Regions from separate parts of the Homo sapiens genome. Here all the other regions are linked to region 1. Evidence: fine-mapped expression QTL. A gene starts in region 1. Each other region holds a variant in brackets. All regions are shown on one strand. Distances are between the middles of the regions. Region 1 holds the start of OSBPL5 (oxysterol binding protein like 5). Region 2 overlaps OSBPL5 (oxysterol binding protein like 5). Region 3 has its middle 6.5 kb from the start of MRGPRG-AS1. Region 4 overlaps OSBPL5 (oxysterol binding protein like 5). Region 5 overlaps OSBPL5 (oxysterol binding protein like 5). Region 6 overlaps OSBPL5 (oxysterol binding protein like 5). Region 7 overlaps OSBPL5 (oxysterol binding protein like 5).

What was found.
Region 2: its variant is fine-mapped to the expression of OSBPL5 in unexposed skin (GTEx, PIP 0.96).
Region 3: its variant is fine-mapped to the expression of OSBPL5 in cerebellar hemisphere (GTEx, PIP 0.91).
Region 4: its variant is fine-mapped to the expression of OSBPL5 in whole blood (TOPMed, PIP 0.93).
Region 5: its variant is fine-mapped to the expression of OSBPL5 in monocytes (Fairfax 2014, PIP 0.93).
Region 6: its variant is fine-mapped to the expression of OSBPL5 in whole blood (TOPMed, PIP above 0.99).
Region 7: its variant is fine-mapped to the expression of OSBPL5 in whole blood (INTERVAL, PIP 0.95).

The regions. Positions count from the first base shown.
Region 1 is chr11:3,163,144-3,167,207 of GRCh38, reverse strand. It overlaps OSBPL5 (oxysterol binding protein like 5), which reads left to right and starts at 1,898. Exons shown (of 22, transcript NM_020896.4): 1 at 1,898-1,992. RefSeq lists enhancers at 704-1,416, 3,160-3,853.
Region 2 is chr11:3,117,229-3,121,292 of GRCh38, reverse strand. It overlaps OSBPL5 (oxysterol binding protein like 5), which reads left to right. Exons shown (of 22, transcript NM_020896.4): 6 at 669-872; 7 at 1,662-1,746. Among named protein-coding and RNA genes, the nearest start is that of OSBPL5, 46 kb to the left of the region's middle. RefSeq lists an enhancer at 1,330-1,499. The variant G/A (reference allele first, on the strand shown) is at 1,896.
Region 3 is chr11:3,209,822-3,213,885 of GRCh38, reverse strand. No RefSeq gene overlaps it. Among named protein-coding and RNA genes, the nearest start is that of MRGPRG-AS1, 6.5 kb to the left of the region's middle. The variant G/A (reference allele first, on the strand shown) is at 1,772.
Region 4 is chr11:3,086,248-3,090,311 of GRCh38, reverse strand. OSBPL5 (oxysterol binding protein like 5) reads left to right here. Exons shown (of 22, transcript NM_020896.4): 21 at 364-466; 22 at 1,969-3,205. The coding sequence ends at 2,107. Among named protein-coding and RNA genes, the nearest start is that of CARS1, 31 kb to the right of the region's middle. The variant A/G (reference allele first, on the strand shown) is at 2,116.
Region 5 is chr11:3,127,939-3,132,002 of GRCh38, reverse strand. OSBPL5 (oxysterol binding protein like 5) reads left to right here. Exons shown (of 22, transcript NM_020896.4): 2 at 2,834-2,990. The coding sequence starts at 2,855. Among named protein-coding and RNA genes, the nearest start is that of OSBPL5, 35 kb to the left of the region's middle. The variant A/G (reference allele first, on the strand shown) is at 2,321.
Region 6 is chr11:3,140,619-3,144,682 of GRCh38, reverse strand. The region is part of intron 1 of OSBPL5 (oxysterol binding protein like 5); the gene reads left to right. Among named protein-coding and RNA genes, the nearest start is that of OSBPL5, 23 kb to the left of the region's middle. The variant G/A (reference allele first, on the strand shown) is at 1,744.
Region 7 is chr11:3,134,355-3,138,418 of GRCh38, reverse strand. All of the region lies in intron 1 of OSBPL5 (oxysterol binding protein like 5), which reads left to right. Among named protein-coding and RNA genes, the nearest start is that of OSBPL5, 29 kb to the left of the region's middle. RefSeq lists enhancers at 1,488-2,095, 2,096-2,704, 2,705-3,312. The variant G/A (reference allele first, on the strand shown) is at 2,115.

The sequences.
Region 1 (4,064 bases):
GGAAATGGGGCTTTCTGGAAAAATGCAGAGCCTGCTGGGAAGTGGGGCAGACAACTGACACCTGTCACTGAGCCTGGCAGGTGGCGTGTTCTTCATTTCTTGCATGGCCATCTGGCTGTCAGACACTACCCAGTGAGAGGCTCAACCCTCGTCCTGCTCCACCCCAGCCCCACCCTGCTGTCATCTATGGCCCCTTCCCCCACCCTCAGGTGCCTCTTTGACTTTTGACCTCTGCCCTCAGCAGTGTCATTTCATGAAACCCAGGCCCTGGACAGCCAGCATCAAGCAACTGGCAACCTTCCCTACTGCCGCCCCTGAGACCTCCGCCCTAGGGATAGGGGCTTTGTTTTCTTCCCTAATTCCCTTTGGATTGGCTCCAGCAACCAGCAAGTTACCAGGCAGCAGCACCTCAGCTTTGGGCGGAGTCTTCAAAGAGCAGACCCAGCAGTTGTATGTGGATCCCAGCTGCACAGACCCTCTCCTGCAGAGGCAGAGGCCGCCTGCCACAGGCCACGCGGAGCAGGGTCCCACCATGGCCCTGAGCATCTTGACTGAGCAGTTCTGCATCCCAAGGCCTCACAAGGTGACTATGGAATGGCAATGCTAGCCCTGGGGGTAAGCTTAGGGCAAGTCCGATCAGCCCACTCGCCTCCGTAAGCCGTGGGTTCCTGTGATCCGCACACAAGCGGCTGGTGCTGCTATCCCCAGGAGGATACCCACCAACTTGTCTAACGGGGTGGGCAAGGCCAGGGCTGAGACGGGAAGGGGTCTGGCTTGTTGTGGGCAGAGCACCTGCATGCTGTGCCGTTCCCCCTTCAGGTGCTGGAAGGAGCCTTCCTGGGCCGCTCGCCCTCCGCAGCCCTGCTGGGAGGTCTTGCAGACGCCCATGATAGCCAGGCTTGCGGCCTCCCGAATGCAACTGCAGCGTGAAACCGTAGAAACACACGTGTCAGTGGCAGTTCTGCCTGGGGAGGAGCCCAGGGCTCTCTGCGGAGGGTCAGTTCTGTCCCTGTTAAGGTTCTGTGTGGAAAAGACTCCACGCCCTCTTGGGGTCTACCTACATCTGGGGATGCCCGAGCCCAGCTCCCAGTTTTTCTGGTCATTTGGGGACATACCATAGGAAGGACCTGCAGTGCACCTCAGGCTTGGACACTAGGGATGCAAACGCCCTGGGGCCAGCCCTGGGCCCACACCCAATTTAGGGTCTACAGGCAGGGAGCCAGGGGCCAGGGGAGGACTTCTCAGCTCCCAAGGGGATGCTGTTTAGGGGAATTAGAATGTCTTTTATATACAAGAGAACTGAGGGGTCTAAAAAGGTCTCTGGGGGGTAGAAGAAGGTGAGGAGAAAACACAGGAAGAAATGCACATGAGGGGAGGTTCTTGTCAAAAGGGTCCTGAGAAAGACGTACAGTTAGAGTGTGACTGAGGGTCCTTCTTAGCACATAAGGGGCAGGGACAACGGGCTCAGATGTCTGGGGCTCCTCTTGTGTTCTGATGGCTCCTGAGACGGGGAGAAACGGCGACAGTTTCCTGGGTTCAGGAAGGGAGAGGAGGCGCCTCGCACCCTGGCTAGGGTGGGCTGGGGGCCTGCACCCCTAAGTTGGAGAACCCCACGAAGCTGACCCCACTCACCGCTGCCCACCCCGCCAAGCCTCCTGGCCATTTTCAGCGGAGTGTCCCGACCTCTGGCCGCCCGGGTGGGTGTGAGCCCCGGAGCGCGCGCGGGGGGTTGGGGGATGAGGAGAAGCGGCAGCCGGTGGGGGGCAGCCCCTGGGCGCCCGCTCCGCGCGGCGATTCGGCCCGGGTTTTGCGGCCGCCGCGCCTCCTCCTCCCGCCTCCGGGCTCCCTGGGCCTCCTCCCTCCGCCGCGCCCTCGCTCCGCCTCGCGCGGGGGGACCATCTGCTGGCATTTCCTGCAGCCAGGCCCGCGCCGCCAGTGGAGCCCCCGCGCGCCCGGCCGGCCCGGAGCACCGAGCTCGCGGCACGGTAGGAGGTAGGAGCGCGGCGGCCCGGGGGGCGGCAGGGCGGCGGGGGGATGGCGGGCTGGGAAGGATCCGGAGGGCCCCGCCGGGCAGGGCCGGAGCGAACCGAGGGCCGCGGGGGGCCGGCCGAAGGGATCCAGGAGCTCGCGCCGCAGCCCCGCGGACCCTGGCAGTAGCCAGTGCGGGGAACCACGCCGCGGGGCCGGTCGCGCGCTGGGGAGCTGGGGAGCGCGGGAGCCTGGGGGCGCCCCGGGCCAGGACGGGTCGGCGCCTGGCGGGTTGGGGCGGGTGGGGCCCGCGAGTGGGAAGCGGCGCGCCCAGCTCGGCTCCCCACTTGGTGGGGCTTAAAGGAGCCGGGACCGCCAGGGAAGGTGGCTGGGTCTGACCACCACAAACCCTGGCCAATCAGGGGGTCTGTCCCCCCAGCTCGGCCGACGCGGGCTCCAAGGAGCCAGGTCTTGATGGGTCTGCAGGGGGTCTGGGATCTGAGTCTGGCGTCCCAGCTGCGGGCTTGGGAGGACTGCTGTGTCTGAGTCCGCAGAGTCAGGGGGCTGCCTGGATTACAGGCTAGGGAAGGACCTTGCCCACAGCCCCCATCTCTGGGGCACTGACCCCCTGAAGATGTGGAGCCTTAGGGATTGTTGAGGTGCCTGAGTCCTCAAGAGGGTCTTGTGCACTTGAAGATTCCTCCCGGGGAGCGGGGTGCAGGAGGGTGGGGCAGGCAGGAAGGAGGCTGGAGTCTGCAGCCCCCCGGGCAACAGGCCCGTCCTGGGCTTCCCAGGCACCGCCCCCAACCCCCACCCAGACCGCTGGGCTGCCTCCTGTCAGAAGCCAACTGGAGTTAGGGTTTGGGGTGACTCCTGGGGGTATGGAGGGGTCACAGGGTGGGCTTACCTGCCCCTCCCTCGTCCCTGGGCTGAGCCCAGCCCCTCCCTCATCCTTGGGCTGAGCGGGTCTGCCCCGCCGAAGCGGCTGGGTGGATTTCCTCTCTTGCCGTTTCGCAACTTGCTCCCCTCTGTGTGTCTGCCCCAGTCTCTTCAAGGTGCCTTTTACAGGAAGACTTCTGTAAGGGTCCCACCCCACCTGATACAGCCTCCCAAAGCCTGGAGAAGTGGGCCAGCCTTTGGGATCCTAGATAGATGCTCTTGGGTCTGCCTGCACCAGGGCTGATCCAGATCCCAGACTGAACAGAAACTCTGCTCCCCAACCCCAGGAGTAAGGCCCCTCTGCACGTTTTTATCCCACCTCCTTGGTACACAGGGCCTTGCTGTTCCTTGAACCTGCCAGGTGAGTGGGGGCTTTGCAGGCATCGGGCAGGTTTGTGGCAACCTGGGGTGGCATCATGTGCCCAGCTGCTCCCTTCTGGTCTCAGGCTCCAGAACTGCAGATCCTATTGTCTGCCTGCACGCGTGTGGGGCTGGCCTGGGGTGCCAGGAGGCAGGCACCGCGTGTGTCTGTCTTGCCAGGCTGTGTTTAAGAAAGGTGACACAGCAGATAGGCCGGATGAGGAGCCTCTGACCTGCAGTCCTGGGCCTGGTCTCAGAGAGGCTGCCCTGCAGATGTCGAACCCCGGGCAGCCATCCTGCATGTCCAGTGGAGGCTCCTTTCTGGGTCCAGATTGGGCCATGAATAGGCCATGTTCTTCAAAGGACTGCTTTCAGCTCTTTACAGAATACCAACGCAAGACCGCCCCCCCCACCCAACCCCTACCCAGGATTGTATTTACTATGCTGAGAATGCCTGGTATCAGTTTCTCTCCTGAGATCCTGGCCTCACTCTGAGCGCTGATAGTAATCTGACATGTAACGCTTGGGGGAGGGAGAAACACTCTGTGACAAGCCGGCGGGTGGAAGGGCTGTGTGTGTCTCTGCCAGCTGTGTTTTGGGGACTGGTGCTCTCTGCTGATTCTGTGGTTAAGCCTGCACACGTTTGCACACATACAGGCACAGTGTGCAGGTGGAAAACTTACCCAAGATGACAGAAGGTGCCCCCCGCCCCCATTCCCATTTATTGTTCAAGGGACAGGTGAATCTGAGCCTGTGACCGCAGCTGAGAAATGTTGTGGACCCAGCTCAGGGTTCTC
Region 2 (4,064 bases), 46 kb after region 1:
TGAGGTCAGGAGTTTGAGACCAGCCTGTCCAAAATGGCAAAACCCCGTCTCTACTAAAAATACAGAAATTAGCCAGGCATGGTGGCGGGCGCCTGTAATCCCAGCTACTCGGGCGGCTGAGGCAGGAGAATCGCTTGAACCTGGGAGGCAGAGTTTGCAGCGAGCCAAGATAGCACCACTGCACCTCCAGCCTGGGCAACAGAGACTCTGTCTCAAAAAAAAAAAAAAAAAGAATCTACAAAGCTGCCAGTTACAAGTCACACCACTCATTGCTGGTTCCTCCCTGAGGCCCTTGACCTTGAACTTGACCCACGTGACCCTCACAAGTAAATCTGTCCCTGCTGCCACGTATTTCTTTGCATTCACCATAACATATGGGCTCCTTTTAAAAACTGAACAAGGACCCTGCCCTGAGTTCCACTCTGAGTCCTGGGGCACCGCTTGCCGTGGCTTGGCCCCTGCTCGGGTACACGATAGACACAGGACATCACCCCAGGGAGTGAGGGTGAGGAAGGGGTGAGTTCCGAACTGGTGTGGGGGAGTGAGGGAGGGGAAGGGCCCCTCGGCAGCCCACCCTGGTCTGTGCCTGGCTCCCCGCCAAGCCATCAAGATGCCCCAGGGATGGCGGCCCCAGAGGGTGGGCATCGACGCCAGCATCCTCCCTGCAGATCCGCGGCACCCTGAAGAGCTGGACCAAGCTGTGGTGCGTGCTGAAGCCGGGGGTGCTGCTCATCTACAAGACGCCCAAGGTGGGCCAGTGGGTGGGCACGGTGCTGCTGCACTGCTGCGAGCTCATCGAGCGGCCCTCCAAGAAGGACGGCTTCTGCTTCAAGCTCTTCCACCCGCTGGATCAGTCCGTCTGGGCCGTGAAGGTGCTGCGGAGGGGTGGGGTTGAAGACAGAGGCCCCGTAGGGCCAAGGGGCTCATTCCTAGGGCCCTGGTGGAGGGTGGAGCCAACCAGCTGAATGGCCCCCTTGGGGCCTTGAGCAGGTGTCTCACCTTCTCTGAGCCCCACATGCGGCCAGGGGATCAGATATGGCCACTGGTGCTCCATGTGAAGCACACAGTAGGCTGCAAGGAGGTGGCATCAAGGTCACCCCAGCCCCTCACCCAGCTGCTGTCCAGGAGGGACAACAGTGGCTGCTCCCCAGGGGTGGCCGAGGAACAGCGCCCAGCCCTCACCCCTCCTAACCCGGGGCTGCCCTGCCAGCTCTAACGGGTGGGAAACCAGAGAAACCCTGAACACCTGGTTACATTTGGATTTCAGAGAAACATCAGAGTTCTTTCATGCTAGTATGACCCCAGTCATGTATGGGAAATACTTACACCAAAAAGCTACTCATGGTTTCTCTGGGATTCGAACATCATTGGGCATCCTGGATGTGCCTTTGCTGATTCTGGACAGCCCAAGTCAGGAGGCTCAGAGCTGGAAAGCTGAGGGCAGAGCTGCCAGCTAAGAAAGGGGACAGAGCTCCCCCACCTACCCGCCTCTCTGCAGCCAAGTGTCTACCTGGCCAGGTGCCTGGCCCCACCTGGTGGCCCTGTGGCCCTGGGGGTGTCCAGGTGGTCCCAGGTGTGGATCCGCATGGTTCTGCCTGACCTATCTGTGCAGCTGGCCCTGGGTGTTGCCTCGGGTGACACCCAGATCTCTCTCTCTCCAGGGCCCCAAAGGTGAGAGCGTGGGCTCCATCACACAGCCCCTGCCCAGCAGCTACCTGATCTTCAGGGCCGCCTCCGAGTCAGATGGTGAGTCCCTGCCAGCTTGCGCATCTCCCCAGTGCCCCCACCTGAAGTGGGCCCCCTTTTGAGGTTGTAGCCCAGGTACAGGTGGCCCCAGTTCAGTCCCTTCTACTGTCTGGGGGCAGCCTGAAGTCTGGCCAGGATGAGCCCGGCTC[G/A]GAGTCAGGCCTACACTCACAGAGCCCCCATGCCTAGCCTCAGTTTTCCCATGAGTAAAATGTGACATTAAAATACCACCTGTCAAAGGCCAGGCGTGGTGGCTCACACCTGTAATCCCAGCACTTTGGCAAGCCAAGGCGGGTAGATTACTTGAGGTCAGGAGTTCAGGACCAGCCTGGCCAACATGGTGAAACCCCGACTCTACTAAAAAATACAAAAATTAGCCAGGCGTGGTGGCAGGCGCCTGTAATCCCAGCTACTCGGGAGACTGAGACAGGAGGATTGCTTGAACCCGGGAGATGGAAGTTGCAGCAATCCAAGATGGTGCCATTGCACTCCAGCCTGGGTGACAAGAGCAAAAGTCCGTCTTAAAGAAAAAAAAAAAACCACCTGTCACCCCAATGTTATGAGAACCCAGTGACCTTATAAAAGCACCCATATAACAATTACTGAGCTCCAACCACATGCCAGTGTGAACCCCAAACATCTGAGACAGGTCTCAGTTAATTTAGAAAGTTTATTTTGCCAGGCCGGGTGCAGTGGCTCACACCTGTAATCCCAGCACTTTGGGAGGCTGAGGCAGGTGGATCACCTGAGGTCAGGAGTTTGACCAGCCTGATCAACATGGCGAAACCCTGTCTCTACTAAAAATACAAAATTAGCTGGGCATGGTGGTGGGTGCCCGTGATCCCAACTACTCAGGAGGCTGAGGCAAGAGAATCCCTTGAACCCAGGAGGCAGAGTTTGCAGTGAGCCAAGATCACACCACTGCACTCCAGCCTGGGTGACAGAGGGAGACTCCATCTCAAAAAAAAAAAAAAAAAAATAGTTTATTTTGCCAAGGTTGAGGCCGTGCCTGTGACACAGCCTCAGGAGGTTCTGATGACTTGTGCCCAAGGTGGTCCGAGCACAGTTTGGTTTTATACATTTTAGGGAGATATGAGACATCAGTCAACACATGCAAGATGAACATTGGTTCGGTCTGGAAAGGCGGGACAATCAAAGCCGGGAGGGGGCTTCCAGGTCATAGGTAGATTAGAGACAAATGGTTGCATTCCTTTGAGTTTCTGATGAGCCTCTCCAAAGGAGACAATCAGATCTGCATTTATCTCAGTGAGCAGAGGGGTGACTTGGAATAGAATGGGGGGGCAGGTTGGCCCCTAGCAGTGCCCAGCTTGACTTTTCCCTTTAGCTTCGTGATTTTGGGAGCCCAAGATATTTTCCTTTCACATTTCCCCCCTTTTTAAAAATCTTTTGGAGAAAGCATTTTAGAAGAAAACGAGTCTCTGGTCTCAGGTTCCACCTGATCTCTCATGGCTAGGATGGTTTATTCCTACACAGGTAGGTCCCAAGTTATTAGGAAAGCTCATTTTCAGAAGGCTGTGAAGTCTCATGTCCTATGAAGAGAAAATAGTAGGAGGAAGGCAGAAAAACAACAACAAACAAAAGAACAATCCTGGGAAATTGGTATAGGCCACATTACTCTGAAGTCCATACATCAGTAGGCAGGCAAGAAAGTGGCTTATGTATGTAAGTAGGTTGCTGTTATTTTCTTCTGAAGTTTAAGTTGTCTAGTTTCAGTTTGCAGGGCTTTAAGAAAGCACAGCTTAGTCTTCAGCGACTCCAAATTAGGAAAAATGGGAAAAAAATGAAGGAAAAAAATTGAAAACATTATTTTGAAGACCTATAGCCAACAAAAATTAGGATTTCATCCAAAGTGCAGAAAATAACAAAAATTGAAAAACATTAGGGAAGAGTAGAATCTAACAACAGCTGTACTATAGTTTTTGAAACATAATTTTTTCTCTCCAGTTTCCCATTTTAACTAAGGACAAATTATGGTAGGACTGGTTTGCTTTATTATACTTGGACTAATTATTTATATACAGTGCAGCAAGAGTAATTAGTTTTTACATAGGCTTTTAAATTGTCTTTGATGGAACTTTGTTCCATAGAAAGAATCTCAGATAAGACTTTTTTAAAGCTGAGCCCAGTCATGGACTTGTACCATTAAACACCTATAAGTTGGGCGAATTATTATCTTCTTGAGGTTCCAAGATAAATTTGGAGCTCCTGGGCCTGTCAGAAAGTGACATTCTTTACTTACCACAGGTCAGGAACCCTGTACAGGGACTGTGTAGATGAGGTATGAGGCCAGTTTTTCCAAG
Region 3 (4,064 bases), 47 kb before region 1:
TAAAACTAACAACTGAGAGGGGGTCAGCGGGGGTGGGGGTCCAGGCTGAGCAGGGGACACACAGGAAGCTGCTGCAGCAGCAGCAATGCAGGGAAGAGGGAAGAGCTGGTGCAGCCTCCAAAGAGGACAATGGCAGGAAGGCTGCAGGAGAGGATCTGAGGTCTGGGGGGAGACGTAGCGTAGAATTTGCAGTGGAACAAGGTCCGATCAGGAAAGGAAGAAGTCAGGAGCCTTCACAGAGGGGAAGGGTAGGAAAATAAAACACAGGCACCTGCCAAGAAGAACAGAAAGATCAGGATCCTGAGAGGGGGCTGTGGATCCTGAGATGGGGCTGTGGACCCTGGGAGGGGGCTGTTGATCCTGAGAGGGGGCTGTCGATCCTGAGAGGGGGCTGTGGATCCTGGGAGGGGGCTGTTGATCCTGAGAGGGGGCTGTTGGCAGCTGACCCTGGGATGGGAATAGGGATGTATCAAGCATGGAAAAAAGACACCCAGGGGCCAATGGGTAAACTCCCAGGTTTGCATTTCCTGTGTTCATCTCAGATTAAATGTAGGTGGTGAGAGATGATGATCAAAGTTCATTTTGTCTGTTTCTTTCCCATGCATATCCAGTTGTTCTGGTAAAACCCCTTTTCCCATTGGATTGCATTGGCATCTGTATTGTAAATCAACTGATTGTATAGGGTGGGTCGACTTCTGGACTCTATTCTGTTGACTGCTCTATTTCACTGTCCTTCTATCAACACCGCACTGTCTTCATTACTGCAGTTTTACATTAAGTTATGAAATCAAGTGGTGTTACTCCTACACTTTTATATTTCTTCTTCAAGATTTACATTTCTATATAAATTTCAGAATCAGCTTGACAGTTTGTGCAAATGTCTACTGATTTTGACTGGGATAGCATTGACTCTATTCAGTTACTCTGGATCAACTTATGGAGAACGGACGTCTTGGCAACATTGAGTTTACCAATTTATGAACATGGTTTTTCTCTGTTTATTGTGGTCTTCTTTCATTTCTGTCTCTGTAGTTTTCACTGTAGGTGTGTTATACATTTCAGGTAAAATGTATTGCTAGTTATTTAAGGTTTCTCAATGCTATGTAAAAATAATCTTTTATTTGCTTTTTCCAATATTCATTGATAGTTTGTATATTGTTTGTATATTGATAGTTTGTATTATTTTTGTATATTGACTTTGATTTTTTTATATTTATCTAACAGCTATCCTGTGAACTTGCTGAATTCACTTATTCTAATAGTCTTTTTGAAAACTGCTTAGGAGTTTCTACGTATACAATCAAATCATTTGCATGACATTATTATTGTAAATAATGAATAATGAATAATTATTGTGAATAATAATTAAAATGATGCATGATTAATAGTGATAAATATAAGAATTAGGAAAATTTTAATAATTATAATTAACACATGATTAATAGTTATTATAAATAATAATAATTAGAAATAATTTTACTAATTCCTTTCTGGTCTTTGCACTTTTTGTTCTTTGTTTTATATCACTCATTAAGACCTCCCATACAATGTTAATAGAAATAGTAAAAGTGGACATCCTCACCTCATTCCCAACCTTTCAGGAAAGTGCTCAATGTTTTGCCATTAAACATGTTAGCTGCAGGCTTTTTGTATGTGCGCCTCATCATAGTGATATGATTCCCATCTATTCCCAATTTTCTGACTTCCTTTAATCACACATAGGTATTGAATTCCATCAACTTTTTGTTCCTTCATTTATTAATGCGACCAT[G/A]CAGTTTGTCTTTGTTAGTCTGTTAATGGGAGGAATTGCACTGATTTATTTTCAAATGTTAACTTTGTATTCCTTGGATAGTCCCTGTCACGCATGTCCATGTGAAGAGACCACCAAACAGGCTTTGTGTGAGCAATAAAGCTTTTCAATCACCTGGGTGCAGGTGGACTGAGTCTGAAAAAGGAGTCAGCAAAGGGAGATAGGAGTGGGGCAGTTTTATAGGATTTGAGTAGGTAGTGGAAAATTACAGTTAAAGAGGGTTTTCTCTTGCGGGCAGGGGCAGGGGTCACAAGGTGCTCGGTGGGGAGATCATGAGACTCGTTGTCCAGGGGAGGAATGTCACAAGGTCGTTTGATTAGTTGGGGTGGGGTAGGAACAAATCACCATGGTGGAATGTCATCAATTGAGGCAGGAACTGGCTATTTTCACTTCTTTTGTGGATCTTCAGTTGCTTCAGGCCATCTGGATGTATACGTGCAGGTCACAGGGGATATGATAGCTTAGCTTGGGCTCAGAGGCCTGACAATCCCCACTTGGCCATGACATATTATCCTTTTTATATATTGGTGGATTTGATTTATGAATATTTTGAAATGGGTATTTGCATTTGTGTTCATGAGAGAGGTTGGTGTCTCATTTATTTTCTAGTGATGTCCTTTTCAGGTTTGGGCATCAATTATTTCCTCTTGCTCAACTCTGTGTAAGAGTTTGGATAAAACCAATATTATTTCACCAATGAAGCCAATTGGGTTTTTGTGAACAGGTTCTAAAACACAATTTCAATTTCTTTAACAAATATAGGGCTATTCAGATTCTCTTTTTCTTCTTGTGTCAGTTTTCTTTTTCAAGGAATTTGTCCACTTCATTTTATCTGAGTTTGAATTTGTTAGCATAAACTTGTATACCATATCCCCTTATTAATCTTTTATTGTCTATCAAATTCACATATCTCTTTTTTATTTTTACTATGGGTACTTTGCATTTTCTCCTGAAAATTCTCATTAGGGCTTTATCAATTTTAGTAATCTTTTCATAGAACCAACTTTTATTGATTTTTCCTATAGTGTTCATCTGTTTTCTATTTAATTTCTGTTTATCTGTATTTATTACATCTTTCTGTCTAAATCATGAAAGTTAAATTTGTTCTTTTTTTCTAGCTTTTTGAGTTAAGCAGCTTAGATAATTTTTTTAAATCTTTTCTTGTAGGCTGCATAATGCTCCCTACCAAGATGTTCACCCACTTGTAATATAGAAACACTCCATATGAGAGCACAGATTACCAGAATAGGCATTTTTTCATGATGCAACAATATGCTGCCTACAAGAGACACATTTTAGATTGAAAGGCACAAATAAGTTAAATGTAAAAAGATATAAAATGAGGCTGGTCACAATGGTTTATGCCTGTAATCCCAGCACTTTGGGAAGCCAACACAAGAGGATCACTTGAGCTCAGGAGTTTGAGACCAGCCTTGGCAACACAGTGAGACCTTGTCTCTACAAAAAATAAAAAATTCACCAGATGCAGTGGTGCACACCTATAGTCCCAGCTGCTTGGGAGACTGAGGCCAGAGGATCCTTTGAGCCCAGGAGATCAAGACTGCAGTGAGCTGTGATCACACCACTGCACTCCAGCCTGTCTCAATAAATTTTTATTTCTATTTATTTATTTATTTATTTATTTTGAGATGGAGTCTTGCTCTGTTGCCAGGCTGGAGTGCAGTGGTGCAATCTCAGCTCACTGCAACCTCTACCTCCTGGGTTCAGGTGATTCTCCTGCCTCAGCCTCCCAAGTAGCTGGGACTACAGGCACATGCCACCATGCCCAGCTAATTTTTGTATTTTTAGTAGAGATGGTTTTCACCATGTTGTCCAGGATGGTCTTGATCTCTTGACTTTGTGATCCACCCACCTTGGCCTCCCAAAGTGCTGGGATTACAGGCAGATATAAAATGATATTCCATGTAAACAACAACCAAAAGAGAGCTAAAATGGTTATAATAATATCAGACTAAATAAATTTAATTTAAAAAAATTGTTACTAGAGACAAACAAGGACATTATACCATCATAAAAGGGTCAGTCCATCAAGAGATACCACAACTATAAACATATATGCTCGTGGTAGGCTAAAAACAAAGCCCCCTTAAAACATATGCATGTCCTAACCCATGTAACCTGTGAATGTGAACTTCTATGACAAAAGGGACTTTGTAGATATGATTAAATTAAGGCTCTTGAGATGGATAGATGATTTTAGATTATCTGGGTGGGCCCAGGGTAACCTCAAGCG
Region 4 (4,064 bases), 77 kb after region 1:
TCCCCAGCGGTGGGAGGGGCAGGTCCAGTGGCATCCTGCCCCAGCCCTCTGCTCCTTTCCTGTCACCAGGAGCTGTGTCTCCCCAACTTTGTCCCTGCCTCTGTAATGGATGGGCCTTGCCTTGGCCACTTCTGCCTCCCAGGCCTGTTAGTGGCTGGTCCAGCCTGGGGGTTCCCTCCAGAAACATCCTCAGCACCCCTCCCTCATCTCCGTGTCTTCAGCTTGGCCCTGCAGGTTTCCCATGAGGTGGGGTGGAGGCCCGAGCTGGATATGACCCTGTGACCCACGTGCCAGCCCCACTGGACCTCCAGCTCATCCTCACTCCTCCCCTCCCCTCCTTTGTCTCACTCGGGGCCGTCCCAGGCGGTGAGAGCCCATGCCCTCGGTGCAGGAAGGAGGCGCGGCGGCTGCAGGCCCTGCACGAGGCCATCCTCTCCATCCGAGAGGCCCAGCAGGAGCTGCACAGGTGGGCCACACTCAGGGTGTCCATCCAGACTCCGGGTCAGAGAGTGCGAGAGACCTGGTAGAGCTAGGGCGGGAGGTGGGGAGGCCAGGAGGCCGCGGCTGGGGTTGTCATCGGAGCTGGAACCCACAAGACCTGCAGGGTGATGAAAGGAAGACAACCGCCGAGGGCAGGAGAGAGGGTGTGGGAGCGGCAGGTGGTGCGGGATGATCAACCAGCCAAGTTGGCCATGCCTGGCAGATACTGAGCTGGAGATGTCCTGAAGCCTAGAGGAAGGTGCCAGCCCAGCATGGCCTGGGGTAGCCCCAGGAGAGACCTTGAGGTGTGCAGAGCGAGGTGGCAGCCTGGGCTCACTGTGGTGGCCCCATACCTGCGCACAGTGGCTTCTCAGGAATGGCTGGGGAAGGAGCAAATGGGAGTGGCCGAGAGCTGGCAGGTGCAGGCCACCAGGGCCACATGGCCCCTTCCTGTCAGCAGATCCCACCAATGAGGAGCAGAGCACAGGGTCCCTCTCGGGTCCAAAGCTCCTGACTCTGAGCCAGGCTGAGGGTCTCACTGGCTGTGGGACCTTGGCTGTCACACCTCAGCCTCCCCTCTGTAAAGTGGGCTTGATAGCAGTACCCCAGGGTGAAATGCAGCCAGGGCACAGGCCCGGGCTCTGTGAGGCTCAAGAGCCTTGGGGAACTGTCATTGTCCCTGTGTAAGCATTTCCAGAAGGTGCTCCCTGGTGAGGCTGTGTGGGCAGAGAAGCAGGGAGGCCTGGCTCCCCAGAAGCAGGTCAGCTGTCAGGCAGGTGGCCAGGACTCAGCCAGAAGCTTCTGCAGCAAACTGGATACCGCCTCAGAGGCCAGGTCCTCCACGGCAAAGTACTCCAGCTCAGGGCCAGGGCCTCCACAGCAGAGTACTGCCGGCAAGGGGCTCGGACAGCGCGTCTACTCCCTCGCGGTCCCGGAGGCTGGAGTCCAAGATCTCGGTGCCACAGGGCTGGTTTATCCCGAGACCTCTCTCCTGCCTGGCAGACGCCAGCTTCTCGCTGTGTCTGTGTCTTCATCTCTTCTTCATATAAGGACACCAGTCCCATGGGACCAGGGCCCACCCTAATGGTCTCCATTTAAATAAATACCTCTTTAAGGACCCCATCTCCAAATACAGTCTTATCTAAGGTGCAAGGGGTTAGGACTCCAACATATGAAGGTGGCAGAGGCATGACTCAGCCATAACCACAGGGGTGGGAGGGAGGATGTAAAAGGCTGACTCCCCAATCCCTGACCCTCCTCTGCCCTGAATGTGCCCAGGGAATCCCAGTATAGCCATGGTGCTGTGGGGCCCTCCCACTAACAAGCTTTCCACCCCCACCCGCTCTGTTGCCCCTGGAGGGCCATCCCATCTCCACCTCGGCCCTGTGTCCAGCACCTGGTCAAGTACCCAGGGCACTGTCCTGGCTTGTGGGAGGGGGACTTGCTGGCATTGGCACAGCCCCCACGATCTGTCGCCTGTCCTTGCAGGCACCTCTCGGCCATGCTGAGCTCCACGGCACGGGCAGCACAGGCACCGACCCCAGGCCTCCTGCAGAGCCCCCGATCCTGGTTCCTGCTCTGCGTGTTCCTGGCGTGTCAGCTGTTCATTAACCACATCCTCAAATAGGAGCCCTG[A/G]GGGCAGAGCTCCTGGCCGGTCCTGAGCCCTCCCTCCCAGGCACCCAGCACTTTAAGCCTGCTCCATGGAGGCAGAGAGGCCCGGCAAGCACAGCCACTGTGACGGGGAGTCCAGGCGCAGGAGGGACCCGGGGCCACAAGGCGCTGCGGGCCCAGGTGTGCTGGGCCCCTCTCAGGGGCACTGGCCTCTCTGCAGGGCCTTCCGCCCAGCGCTGGCCTTAATGCTAAAGCCAAATGCAGCTTCTGCTGTGCGACGCACTCCTGGCCATCTTGCCGTGTCACCCCCTGTCCGGCCTCCACTTGCCATGGGGGATGGATGGATTTAGGGTGGGAGGGCCTGTGGGGGCCCTGGACAGTCACACCCCAGCAGCAGTGAGTGGGCAGGTTTGGAGGAGCCCCGAGTGGCCCAGGAGTCCCCCCACACACAGATGCATAGGCCTGCCTTCCGGAGACCCTGTCCACATTGCCGGGACCACCCTGGTGGGGCCACTGGTGGGTGCCAGGGACAGGTTAGGGCCACTCTGGGGAAGGCATTTTGGTTTTTTATTCCACGCTGTGCTGTTTGGATGGGAGCCCCACAGAGGCAGGTCCTGGAACCACCCCACCCCCACACCTGGACGCTCGCTCTGGTGGGGGCACACGCAGGTGGAGGTGGTTGTGGGTGCAGGTGTGTGCAGGGGTGTGGGGGGCGCAGGGGTGTGGCTTAGCTGGCCCCGCACCCAGGCCGGGGAGGCTCAAGTTCGCCACTTTACTCAGACCGATGCACAGTCTTCCCATTTTACACTTTTTTAATAAACATAATTGCAATATTTTAGGTGGGCTGCGAGCTGCAGTCAGCCTTCACGTCTGGCCTCAGTCCCCGTGTCAGTGCCGCTCTGCGTGTGCGTGTGCGCGTGTGTGAGCCTCTACACATATATATACGTACAGAGCCTTAAACCACATCGTGGCGGTGCCGTCTGAGCTGTAGCGGGTGGCTTTGTTTCCAGTTTTTGTACCCGTGTCCTTGTCTCCCCTCCTCCCCCATCTGGGGATGTGTCTGTGTTCCACACCTTGAAATAAACAGACACATACGTGTTCTCTTCTTGCGGGACTTCTGGAAACGAGAGGAGGGCTTCCCAGGAAGACTCAAGGCCAGCATGGAGCTGTGTGGGGCTGGGTGGAGGGGCCCGGGAGGGAGGAGGGTGCAGAGTTCACAGGGAGCTGTGGGCAGCCTGCCCGCCCTGTGGAGCAAATGCTGGGAGGCTGGCGTCCCATCACCCAATGAGCCAGTGGGGGACACAGAGTGACACTGCCCACAGGCACTCCAGGCACCTCAGAGGCTGCTGGGGGGCATTGGCACAGCCCCTGAGGCCAATGCTGCCAGTTACTGAAGGGGACCCCCCCTGGCTGGACCACCTGGCCCGCTGCCCCTTGCTTCGGTTCCACTGTGGCCACCACCCCTGGTACTCAGACACCAAGGCCAGTGAGTGGGCCTGCTCAGGGTGCCCCTGAAGGCGGGGTGGGGGCACCTGACCACAGGCCTCAAGTGACAGCAGAGGGAGACTGCAGCCCACCCCTCACAGCAACCAGAGGACAAGGGTGATGAAAGGGAGGGCAGCCAGGCAGCACCCAGGAGAGGGGGACACGAGGGGCCTCGGGTCACCACCTCCCTTCTGCACCTCCCCACCTCGACCCCCAAGGCCCCAGGAGAGGAGGGGCTGTGGCTGGGGTGGAGGGAGAGGCAGGGGGTCCTGCCCCCCAGCTCCTCTGAGGAGCCTCATGTCCGCCTCAGACAGCCAGGACTCCCAAGACCCCCCCGAACCACCTGGAGGATGGGGCGGGGGGCCCTGCCTGGCTCCAGTGCCCCTCTGTGGAGGCCACACACCATGGGGCAAACATGAGCTCAGAGTGTGAGCCCTGGGGGTGACAGCCTTCTGCATCTTGATGGCGGGGCAGGCTGTTCCAGACAC
Region 5 (4,064 bases), 35 kb after region 1:
GGGAGGGAGGGTGGGTGGATGGGTGGGTGGATGGATGGATGGATGGATGGATGGATGGATGGATGGATGGATGGACAGGAGGATGGATGGATGCCTGAAAGGGAGGGAGGGTGGGTGGATGGGTGGATGGATGGATGGATGGATGGTTTGGTGGGTGGATGGATAGATGAGTGGGTAGATGGATGGATGGATGGATGAATGAATGGGTAGGTGGATGGATGGATGGATGGATGGGAAGATGGTGGATGGATGGATGGATGCCTGGGAGGATGGATGGATGGATGGATGGATGGATGGATGGATAGATGAATGGGTGGGTGGGTGGATGGATGGATGGGAGGACAGTAGATGGATGGATGAATAGACGGGTGGATGAATAGACAGATGGATGAATGGGTGGATGGATGGATGAATGGGTGGATGGATGGATGGATGGATGAATGAATGGGTGGGTGGATGGATGGATGGATGGATGAATGGGTGGATGGATGGATAGATGGGAGGATGGTAGATGGATGGATGGATGGACGAATGGGTGGATGGATGAATGGGTAGATGGATGGATGGATGGATTGATGGATAGATGGGATGACAGTAGATGGATGGATGGATGGATGGATGAATGGGTGGGTGGGTGGATGGATGGATGGATGGATGCCTGGAAGGGAGATGTATGTATGTATAGATGGAGGGATACAAGGGAGCGGGAGACTGGTGTATAGATGAGACTGGTGTATAGATGAGTGGATGGTGGCACTCACAGACTAAGAAGTCCCACTGGCTGTCATTGGTGCTGGGAGAAGGTATGTGGGGTATCTGAGCAGAAAGGTACCAAGATCCCCTATGGCCTTTCTACCTTGGCCCAGGTGGAACTGGAGCAGACAGCCAGACAGGGCAGCTGAGGCTAGGTTTTGAGCCCCTCTCCCTGCCCCAGGAGGTTCCAAGTGAGGGAGACCTACCTGGGAATCGCTGTCACCACACTGCCTGGGACATTCCGGGGCTCTCTGTGGGTCCTGAGAGCAGGATCGCTGCTCACTTACCTTGGCTGCCTGGTGCCCAGCCCAGCCTGGGTGCTCAGAAAATCTCAGCTGTCTGAGTAAGCCCGGCCTCCGCTCAGCTGCTGGTTCCCATCCTGAGCTGCACCTGGGCAAGTAGGACGTGTTTGTTGTGATTGACAAGTAGGGGCAGGACTTCCCATCTGCCTGCTTCCCTGCGGCAGGTTGGCTGAGCCAAGCTGAGACACTGAGTGGGCAGACACTCAGCGGCTGGGTTTTAGGATCGGTTCCACCTGGCTTAAGGACGGCATTGCTGATTGTTAGCTCTGTGACCTGGGCCAAAACGCCAGCCTCTCTGAAGCCAGCTGCCCTGTGTGTAAGATGGCCAAGGTCATGAGCCGAGCCAGGGGCCAGGTGAGGGAGGGGCTGGCCCAGCCTGGCTGCATCCTTGGAGCCCCTCCCCACTCTGACTTCAGGACTGGGGGCACAGAGGGGGCTCTGGGGTGGTGGACAGAAGCCCCCAGGACCACAGACACCCTGGGCCCCCAGCCCACTCCTGAAGCCACAGCAGGAAAGTCTCTGTGTGTCTGAGGCCCCCCCCAGCAAAGCCCAGGACCATGGGAGAAATCGAGGCCTTTGTCCCGGGCTTGGCAGGATGCCACTGGCCTGCCCTGAGGCAGCAGGAAGCAGCCCCAGAAAATTGGGAAAGGAGGAAAATTGACCAGTAGTTTTTAAGGAGCTCGCCCTTGGGAAGTGGACACAAGATGAGAAGCTGGAGGGGATGCTCTGCCAACCCTTGTCAGGTCACGATTACAGGTCGAGGCCTTCCACTCCCTGAGCCATGATTTTCTCATCTGTAAAATGGGCTGAGACCTCAGTGGATCTGGCGCCGTCAACTTCAAGTGCCTGCAAAGGCGTGACTGCAATCAGTTACCCTCTGCTTGGCCCAGCACTACTAGGTGTAGGGCTGGTGGGGAGCAGGACAGAGGGGACCGCCTGTTGTCCTCTCTCCTTCCAGGGGAGGAAACAAGAAACTCGCTTCTGAACCCACAGGGGAAAGGCAGGTCTGCCAGTGGGCGGGGCTGGGAGAGCGAGGCAGGTGGGTGTCAGGGCCTGGCTGTGGGGCCTCCCTCTTTTGTGAAGCAGCAAGGAAGCTCCCACTGGGAATGCAACGTCTTGGGCTGGGCGTGGACGCAGGTGTGCCTGGCTGTGAGCGCCCAGAGCTCCCTCTCTTGCTGGGGTGCATGTGGGTGCAACTGAAACTGTTGGGGCACCCAAGCTTCAGGCGGGCTTAACCAGAGGCGAGGCGCTCCTGGGACCCTTAG[A/G]TGGATGGCAGGCCAGGCTCCCGGACTGCCCAACACCGTGCCAGCCACTCCCTGGTGCTCAGCGGCCACCTGGTCTCACCCCCGTGCATCTTCTCCATGGAAGCTCTAGACCCCTCCCCACCACAAAGTGCTGTCACGTGGGAGGGAAATGCGGGAGGGAAAACCTGTGTCTACACGTGGGTCTGCCTGGCTGCAGCCAGGGTCTCACAGAACCTGGGGTGGGGGTTCTGAGAAGGACATCTTCCGAGGGTGGTGATGAGCCTCTCTGACCAGGGCTCCGTCCAGCCCTACTGCCCGGCGTGGAAAGGGCTGGCACCAGCCAAAGCCATTCGCCTGAGCTGGGCTGTCCTGGCTGACCACCCACCACCAGGCTCCCAGGGCCCAGGCCCTCCTCACCCTGCCTCAGAAGTCCCCTGAGAGGGGGACTTCTTAGCCAGGGGCACCCCCACCATGTGGCTCTGAAGCCCCTTCCGGGGCGGTGACCTCCTGCTGCCCCTCCTTCCTTCCTTCCAGAAGCCCCCGAGCGCCCACAGCATGAAGGAGGAGGCCTTCCTCCGGCGCCGCTTCTCCCTGTGTCCACCTTCCTCCACCCCTCAGAAAGTCGACCCCCGGAAGCTCACCCGGAACTTGCTCCTCAGCGGAGACAATGAGCTCTACCCACTCAGCCCAGGTAAGTGCCGGCCGTGGGCAGGGCAACCTGGCCCTCAGCTTGGGCCCGGTGGGGTGACCCCGGGCGGCCCAACCCCTCTGTGCCCCTTGAGGTCCACAGCTTCCATGCTGGGGACTGTGTGGGTTTCATGATCAAACGGTTTGTAGCTTGGTAGAGTGCCAGGTAATACGGCTTCTTGGCTTGACCTGCGGGGCCAGGTGAAGCCCATCTGGTTGAGGAGGGGGTTCCCACAGCCCAGGCTTTGGGAGTTATGGAGTGCAGTCATCCCAAAGTCAGCCCAGGCTTTGGGAGTTATGGAGTGCAGGCTCCAGGGACAGGTGGCCTGAGCCCCAGTCCTGGCAGGGTAACCCCAGGCCAGCTACTTGACCTCTCTAGGCCTCAGTTGACTGATCTATAAAATGGGACAATATTAGTACCTACTCCCAGCTATACATGGGTCCTGGGCTCTGAGAGGGGACAGCTGGAACCAGGCCTGCCTTCGTGCAATTGTAGATAAAGCACCCAGCACACAGACTCAGAACCTCTGCCCGCCAATGCTGCCACTCTCCAGGCCCCTCCCTGGCACCTAACTATGCACAACCCCTGCCCCAGCCAAGGCTGAGCTGTGACTGCTGTCCCCCAGAAAACCCAGCCCTTCCTCCCCTGTTCCCCTGAGAGTAGGAGGTAGGGGCAGGCACCTGCCTGGGGGACCTCTCCCCAGCTCTGCCCCCTCTCCTCCCACTGCCTGCTTTGGGGCTGAGGAAGTGGGAGCCCCAGCCCTGCCTGGCCATGGTCATCTCATCTGCCCTGGGGGGAGTGGGAGAGCATTGGGCGGATCCACCACCCAGGCTCGAGGGGCGTGTGGTCGCAGCCAAAGTCCCATCCAATAGATGGAAAAACGGAGTCCCAGCGTAGAGGTGGCCTTGCTGAAGGTGCTATGGCAGGCAGGGGCACTCGACACCCGGCAAGGTAAATCCTACACCTTTTATTCTCTGCTGTCACGTTCACCCTGGCCGGAGGCTTAGAAGCACTTGCAGAGTCAGGGGTGGGGAGGGGAAGGGCTGGGTCCCAGCTGCTGGTCAGTTTCAGAGGGAC
Region 6 (4,064 bases), 23 kb after region 1:
AATGTTCCCCAAGAGGCAGCATAACATGGGGTGTCCCCAAAGTCAGACCACCCACGTGTGTGGCTGCTCAGCCAGTCACAGGTGGTGGAATTTGGGGCCGGTGTCTGCTGTCTCAGTGTCGGTGGAACGGGGTCAGGCCAGGCCCAGCCCGCACTCCCCTGCAGAGGTCAGCTGGTCCCGGCCACGGAGCCTGGCGGGTTTGCTGCTGGCTGTGATCATGATCAATGCATTGATGGGAATGTGAAGAGTTATGGAAATTCCACTTTGTTTTTTAAAGAAACAGCATCGGTCACCCATAGTCCACCGCTGCCAGCGTTTCTGCACACTCCAGCTCCCCGTCATGGGGCTTTACCATGTCGAGGGCACCTCACACTGCTCCTTGGCACCATGGCACCCCACTTCCCTGGGGCTCTCATTGTCAGCGGTTTCATTGTATCCCCCAGAGTGTGAGCTGCAGAGGAGGGGGCATGTTCTGTCCCCACCTGCCTGTCACTTCCACCCGCGTTGGGTTTTTTGTGTGTTTCTGTCCTGATGCAGCCTGCTTGAACCACCTCACAAACAATAAACCCGTGTTTGGTCTCAGGGCTGTGGGACCCCCTGAGGATGGGAGGAGCCATCGAGGTTTGCCGGGCTCAGTGGGTGCTGGAGCAGCTGGCCCCCGCCAGGCCTGACTCAGTGTGACTTGAGGCCATCGACCCTCTGTCCTGCTACCCAAACCCAGTGTCCACCCCATAGCTCCCACCACACAGGATGATCCCAAGAGCTGTCGATTCCACAGCATCTGCTGTGCACTGCAGCCCGGGTGCCTTCCTCGGGCCCTGCTCAGCTATGACCACGGCCAGGAGCTAGGAGGATCCCCCTGGGCTGCAGTAAAGCAAACCAAGGGCCCAGGGCTCCAGGATCATCTGGTCAGCCTCCAGTCATAGTGGACTCCAAAGCCCATGCTCTTTCCCCAAAGAGCCCCAGGAAACCGGGACAGAACCGGGCCGGGCCCTGGCAAGCACCAGTCTGCGTTCCGTGTCCAGACCTGCCCGTCCTGGACACTGCGTGGGCGTGGAAGCGGACAAGATGTGGCCTTTGGTATCTGGCTTCTTTGACTTGGTGCATCTCTGCGGCTCATCCGTGTCGTCGCATGTGTGAGTGCCGTGCTTCCTGCCTCCTGAAGGCCGAATGTTCTTCCATCCGTTGCACAGATGTGATCCATGTTTATCCGTTCACCCATGTGGATGTCTGGCTGTGTCCGCTCTCTGATGGCCCTGAGCCATGCTGCTGGGAGCGTGCGTGCGCGGACCACCTGGGGGCGTGTGCTTGTTTCTCTTGGGTGTGTCGCGTCCGTGCGTTTTCGCCCACAGTGCAGCCCCCCATGGGCCCCTGGAGCCGGTCGCTGGTCCACGCACTGGGCTGTACCTGCCTCCTCTGCCCCGCTCCGCACCTGCCTCCTCTGCCCCCCCCGCACCTGCCTCCTCTGCCCCCCTCTGCACCTGCCTCCTCTGCCCGGCTCTGCACCTGCCTCCTCTGCCCGGCTCTGCACCTGCCTCCTCTGCCCCCCTCTGCACCTGCCTCCTCTGCCCGGCTCTGCACCTGCCTCCTCTGCCCCCCTCTGCACCTGCCTCCTCTGCCCCGCTCCGCACCTGCCTCCTCTGCCCCCCCCCGCACCTGCCTCCTCTGCCCCCCTCTGCACCTGCCTCCTCTGCCCTGCTCTGCAGGCTCCAGGACCGTCCAGACCCAGATGCTGGGTCCCAA[G/A]GGTCTCTGCTCACACACCCCCACCCCGTGTGCCGTCCGCTGTCCTGGGTGACTGGTTTTGTCCTTTTCCTCTGGTCTCACTGTTTCCTTGTGTGCAAGGAGTGGGCAGTCACTGCCCTTCTACCCGCAAGGCTGCATGGGGCTCGGGGATCCCCAGGTGAAGGGAGACCTGCTGGTCTTCCAGCCTCCACCCCTGCACACGACTTCCTGCCGGGCCCCGCGGACACGGAGACAGAGGGACAGGTCTCCACCTGAGTGGGTCTATGAGGAGAGACAGAGACATGAAACCAGCGGTCCTGTTGATAAACGCACCACCCAGGCTCTCCACCCGCGAGACGGTGACTCTCAGACCTGTAGGATGGAGTCATTCATTTCATTTTCCTGTTTCATTCTCAGTTTCCTCATCTGTAAAAAGGGAGGGGAGCTAAGCATCCGGGTGAAATCTGACCTCCTGGGACACGGAGCAGCGAGTGGGGAGGGATCCTGGGCCCTTGTGGCAGCAGGGCATGGAGGGGTCGTGGTGGAGAGGTAGGGGCTTCCCAGTTGTACAGACCAGCAGCCCAGAAAGTGTTCTCTTGGACCATCTGGGCATTGCACTCCCCCAGCTGTGGGCAGCCCCGTGGACTTTGGGGTGGCACCAGGGCCCAGCACCTCCTGCACCAACCTGCCGTGTGGCCCTGGGCGAGTCAGCTTCTTCTCTTGGCCTCAGAAACCAGCTGTCGGCCGGGCACGGTGGCTCACGCCTGTAATCCCAGCACTTTGGGACGCCGAGGAGGGCAGATCACTTGAGGTCGGGAGTTGGAGACCAGCCTGGCCAACATGGTGAAACCATGTCTCTACTGAAAAAATACAAAAAAATTTTAGCCGGTCATCGTGGCAGGTGCCTGTAGTCCCAGCAACGCGGGAGGCTGAGGCAGGATAATTGCTTGAACCCGGGAGACAGAGGTTGCAGTGAGCCAAGATCGTGCCATTGTACTCCAGTCTGGGCAACAGAGCGAGACTCCGTCTCAAAAAAAATAAAAAGAAAGAAAAGAAACTGCAACTGTAACATGGAGAGAAAGTGGGAAAATGGCGCATTTGTACTCTTGCAGTCTTTTTTCCTTCCAGGGCGTAGAGTCCTCCCAGTCCCTGCACTGGGTGGGAGGCGGGTGGGGGGTGGGTGTTCCTACTGTCACCCCATTTAGCATCCTGTGCCCAGGGGAGGACACACATGCAAGGGTGGCGTAGGCACCTCGGCAAAGCACTGGGATGCATGAGAATCGCAACTTGGCAATGCATTGAGCGAGGTGCGAGCTTTCCGTTCATAGAAGGGTTCCCCTTGGAGGTCAGCAAAATCCAGCCCCTCCCTGTCCTCTCTGCGCAACTCGGGCCATAATGGACCCCATTAATGCCATTTCCTGAACACTTTGGCAAGCTCTCCACCACAGCGGAAGACAGATTGGGGGTCCTTCTGTTTGAGACCCCCCCCATTTCCTGAGAGACAGATTGGGGGCCCTTCTGGAAGCTCTGTTCTGAGGGGAACCAAGGAGGCCTCGGGGCTGGACCTGCCTGCTGGGGCAGGAGGGGTTTCTAGAATCCACGTCCTTCCCACTATGCAGAGTCACAGGGAGGATGCTGGACCCGAGGGTGTGTTCCCGGGTGAGCAGGAGGCGCTTGGTCAAAGGACGCTGTGCATTGTCCAGGAGCAATCACGACTCGGTGGCATCTCCTGTGCCCTCCCTGCATCACACATGATGACGATACTGTCTGCTGGGCGGGGGGAAGCCTGGGTGGCTGTCAGCATCAGAGCACTCGAAACTGCCTGGAATGAGGCTTTATGGGTTGACGTTGTTTCTGTTGTTAGGTGGTTTTTATTCCTGTTTTGGGGGCCTCTTCGTACAAGGCATTGGGCTGACCCCCACCCAAGTTGGTGCCCCCAGGGTCCTACCTGCCAGGCTTTGTGTCTTCTTCTCTGCAGTGTGTGACCCCTGACCCTTGACAGATGGCATCGGGGAAGGAGTGGCTCTGAGGTGGTCACCTGGCCCCAGGGCCCCCTGGGCTGTCACACCCATGGGCTGACCAGAGCACCAGCTGCAGCTCTGCATGGGCGGGTAGGGGTGGGGTAGGCACCTCACCTTGATACACCCAGGGGCAGCCTCAGCTCCTGGACATGAGGGGCCGCCCCAGGTACCCACATACCCCAAGGAGGACTAGGATGGGACGTGTGGGCAGCAGGTGACCTTATGACCTCTCTGGTCTTGGAAACAAGGCTCCTACAGCCAGTCCTGGGTAATGTGAGCTGGGGGACAGAGGGGAGCCGGGACGACGATGCCTGTCCACTG
Region 7 (4,064 bases), 29 kb after region 1:
TGCTGCCACCTGGCTGCAGCTAGCATCTGAAAATCGGAGTCTCCTTTCAGTTGGGACAGGTGGGGTGGGTCTAGCTGGGAGGTGGTGGGTCTAGCTGGGAGGTGGTGGGGCCAGGCCTGCCTCAGGGACCACGCCCAGCCCGCCCCCATGCCAGGGCTTCTTAGGGCTGGTGGAGTGATCGACTACAGGGGTGTGGGGTCGGGGTACCAAGGCCAGCTGACCCAGTAGCTGCTCTGAGCCTTCAGTGGGCCTGGTGTCCATCAGGAGGACAGGTGGACAGGGCCGGGGACGGGCTGGCCTGGCCGGGCCCACAGGCACAGGACTTGGCTGAGGCAGCCCGGAGAACACGCAGGCATGGCTCGATGCTGCGTCCTCAGCAGTGCAGGCCACTTCCTGTGCCCCTCTTGAGGTTCAACCACTCCACAGCTGCCTCTGATAAATGTCTCCCCAGAGGGAGGCCTGGCCTCCCCCTCAGCTCCACAGCTATCTCCAAAGTGCAAAGGGGATTTGGGGCTTCAGCTGTGCTCCTTTGAGGGGATCCCAGGCGCAGCCTGGCCCACGAGACCTTAGATGGGCCGTTTCCCCTCTTGGGGTCCCAGTGTGTTTGTGTGTGATGAGGGTGTCACTTTGTCACCCAGGCTGAGTGCAGTGGCATGACCATGGCTCATAGCAGCCTCGACCTCCCAGGCTCAAGCAATCCTCCCACCTCAGCCTCCTGAGTAACTGGGACCACAGGCATGTGCCACCACAACCGGCTGTTTTTATGTTTGTAGAGACAGGGTCTCGCTATGTTGCCCAGGCTGATCTCGATCTCCTAGGCTCAAGCGATCCACCCGCCTCAGGCTCCCAAAGTGTTGGGATTACAGGCTTGTAATCCCAGGTGCAGTACACCCGGCCCACTGCATCTTTAAAATGTGATGATGACCCCTGCTCCCCTGCTCCCCGCACCTTGCGAGCATTCCGAGAATCATATCAGATGGGACAGAACATCCAGGAGGACCTGGGGGCTTTAAGGTCCATCAGTGCAGCAGATGTCCTGGGAAAGCGCATGTCCCAAGCCCCCCAGGGCCCAGCTGCCACAGCTGAAGTGCATGCCACGGCTCTCTGAAGAGGCTGCTGCTCCTGCAGGGGTGGTCAGGCTGCCCACATTAGCACTAGGCATTCGGTCCACCCAGACACAGCAGCCTGGTCTCTTATGCTGCTGTCTGCTCTCAGGGAGTGCATCTGTTGCTGTGGTGGTCTCCCTGGGGTGACTCAGGAGGCCTGCGTGGTTTCCTCACAGCAGGATCTTCATGGTCACTTGCATTGACCTTAGCAAGTTTCTGGAATGCAAACGTATGGTGTTGACATGATGGCTGCTGTCCTTTAACTGATGGCTGCTGTCCTTCCTTGGGACCCACTGACCTCTCCATCCCATGTGCGAAGAGCCAAGCATTTGGGCTTATGTTCCTTTATCCTTGTGATTTTAGAGCATTTCCCCTCCACAGTCTTGAACGAGAATCTATCTGGTTTAGGCAGAAGCATCTGTGCCGGATGTTACTGCTGAAGGCTGGCTGCGGAGTTCCTGCTTTTCTGGCCCCTGCCAATTGATGGAGCACCCCAGTGGCCAGAGCCTCCTCTCTGCCCCCATGCAGCGCGGCCCAGCCCTGTCACTCTGGGCTGTGGGTGAGGAAGCCACATAGGCGTGGAGGGGGCTGGGTCTGGGCTCACACTCACCTCTGCAGGCGCCTTCCCCAGGGCCTCCTGTGGGCCTGGGACATCATCTCCCTGACTCAGAGCAAGTCCTGATTTACAAACAGGGCCTGAGAGATGAAGGTGGCCAGCTGAGGCCACACAACCACTGGAGTCATGGCTGGGCCCTTTTCCCCAGCTCTGCGGTCCCCAGGCCTCTGCAGGAGGACAGAGGAGGAATTGGGCACAGGAAGGATGCGGAATGAGTCCAGGACTCAGCTGGATTCCTTCTCAGAGCTTCAGCCTTTCCCAGAGCTGAGGCAGTGTCTGCCCCTGGCCAAGGTTCAGCTAAGTGTGGCCCCAGCTGATGGCTCTATGTGGCCTGAGGAGGCGCCAGTGACCTTTCTTTACAAGAATCCCTTTATCCTAGCCTGAAGGCGAGC[G/A]TCTGGGAGGCAGGGGGTAAGGAGCACTTTGGAGGCTGGATTACTGCTGGGAAGGCAGCTGGCGGAGGCAGGGGGGCCATGTGCACTGGCTCTGGGTGGGGCCCCCATTGGGCCTGGGCCCCATGCTGCCAAACAGCTGGCCTTGGCGTGGGGTCAGAGAGCATGGCCCCTCCCCAGGTGTCCAGAGGCAAGCATCCTCAGGGACACAGGGCTGGCCAGGCAGAGGCAGAACCTGACCTGTCCCTCCCCATCTGCTCTGGGCTGGCACCACATGGGACCTCTTGTCTCCCAGTGGTGGAAGGGGTCTTTCATGCCCCACATGAGAAATGGAAGGAAGAGCCTGCTCCAGCCTATGCAGTGGGGGTTGGGGAGGGGTGGTCAGCCCAGAGTCAGAGCTCACTCCCTTCCTGTGCCCTCGCCTCTGTCCCCTCCGCAACTCCTAGGTGGCCCAGGAAACTCAGCAGGGCAGGAGGAAGTGGGAGCCATGAGGAGGGGACCAGGAGGTGCCTGTGGTTAACAGGAAGGGGGGTCAAGCAGTGGCTCTGGGTGTGGGTGGGACCCTGCCGCAGGCAAGGCGGCCCCCAGGCGCTGCCACCACGGGGCGGTGTCTTAGCTGTGGTCTCAGGAGTGCAGCAGCTGCACGACACCATCACGGCCACCTGCAGTCCCCGAGAGCCCCACATGTCCATCTGGCCTGGGCATTCTGCAGCTTTGGGCACAGGCAGGGGTGGGAGTCTGGGGCTAGCCTGGAGGAGGGTGCTGGGGTCTCAGGAGAGGACCTGGAAGGGGCACCCATCCCTGCCTGCCTGGGCATCCACCTCCTTGCCCAGAGGAGGGCCTCAGGAGTGGCCTCTGCCTGGCTGCCACGGTTCTGGCTCTCTGTCCCCCTTACTCTCTGGCCCTCCAGAACGTTCCCCGGCCCTTAGCAGCTCCAGCGTCTCTCAAGCCCCCTTCCAGCCATGAGCGAATTCATTCTAGAGATGCAGAGTTGGCCCCTGTGTGTGCCCCGCCCAACTGGGTCCAGAGGTGCTTGAGTAGTCAAGGAAGTCAGCTGGGCCAGTGTCCCCTTGGCGGAAGCACGGCCCTGCCCAGCCCAGCACAGCTCAGTTCAGGGGAACCCACCCAGGCCAAAGCGAAGCACCGCCAGGGCGCACTTCAGGTCCAAAGAGACGCACGGGGGCGGTCAGCTGCTCCTGAGGACTGACAGCTGGGGAAACGTTCTTGGACAAAGGGGCTGGGTCTCCGAGGAAGAAGGAGGAGCCCCCTGCAGAGGGCCAGGCAGAAGCAAAGGCCCAGCTCGGGGGCTGGGGTGCAGAGAAAGGGGGGCCTTCCATGGGCCGAGCTTCTCCCGCGTCCCCTCTCCAGCCTAGTGGGACCACAAGTGGGATTGTCAGCTCTCCCAGGCTGGTGGTTGGCCCTGCCCACGGGCCTGCACCCGGCACCCACACTTGCCCCTCCCCCACCCTCAGCCCCTCTCTGGGTCACAGGATCACCCCCACCCCACCCCCAAGTCCCAGCAGACCTCTGAGGAGACCCACTCACGCAGCTGAAGCCCAGCCCCTGTGGGCTCCCCGGCCCATCCCGCCACATGGCAGAGGAGGCTCTGCTCAGAGCACATTCTTTCGGTGGACAGCGGGTCTCCACCCCAACCCAAGTCCAAAGTGTTCCCTTTTGGTGCCTCCCTCCCTCCTTTCCAAAAGGCCCAAAGAGGCACAAAGTCATGACTGAGAAGAGCGGCTGGGCAGGGCACCCACCTGGGATGGGCTAGGGACCAGCAGCAGGAGGAGGGGCTGGGGGGCCAGCCCTGCTCACCTTGAGCCTTCACAGGCTGGGGAGTGGGCCTGGCTCACTCTGGACTAGGAAGAGTGGCCCCCACCCTAGTCACTAGGTCTGCCCAACAGCTGAACAAAACCTGGCGCTCCCCCAGGCAAGGGGCACTTGGAGAATTGG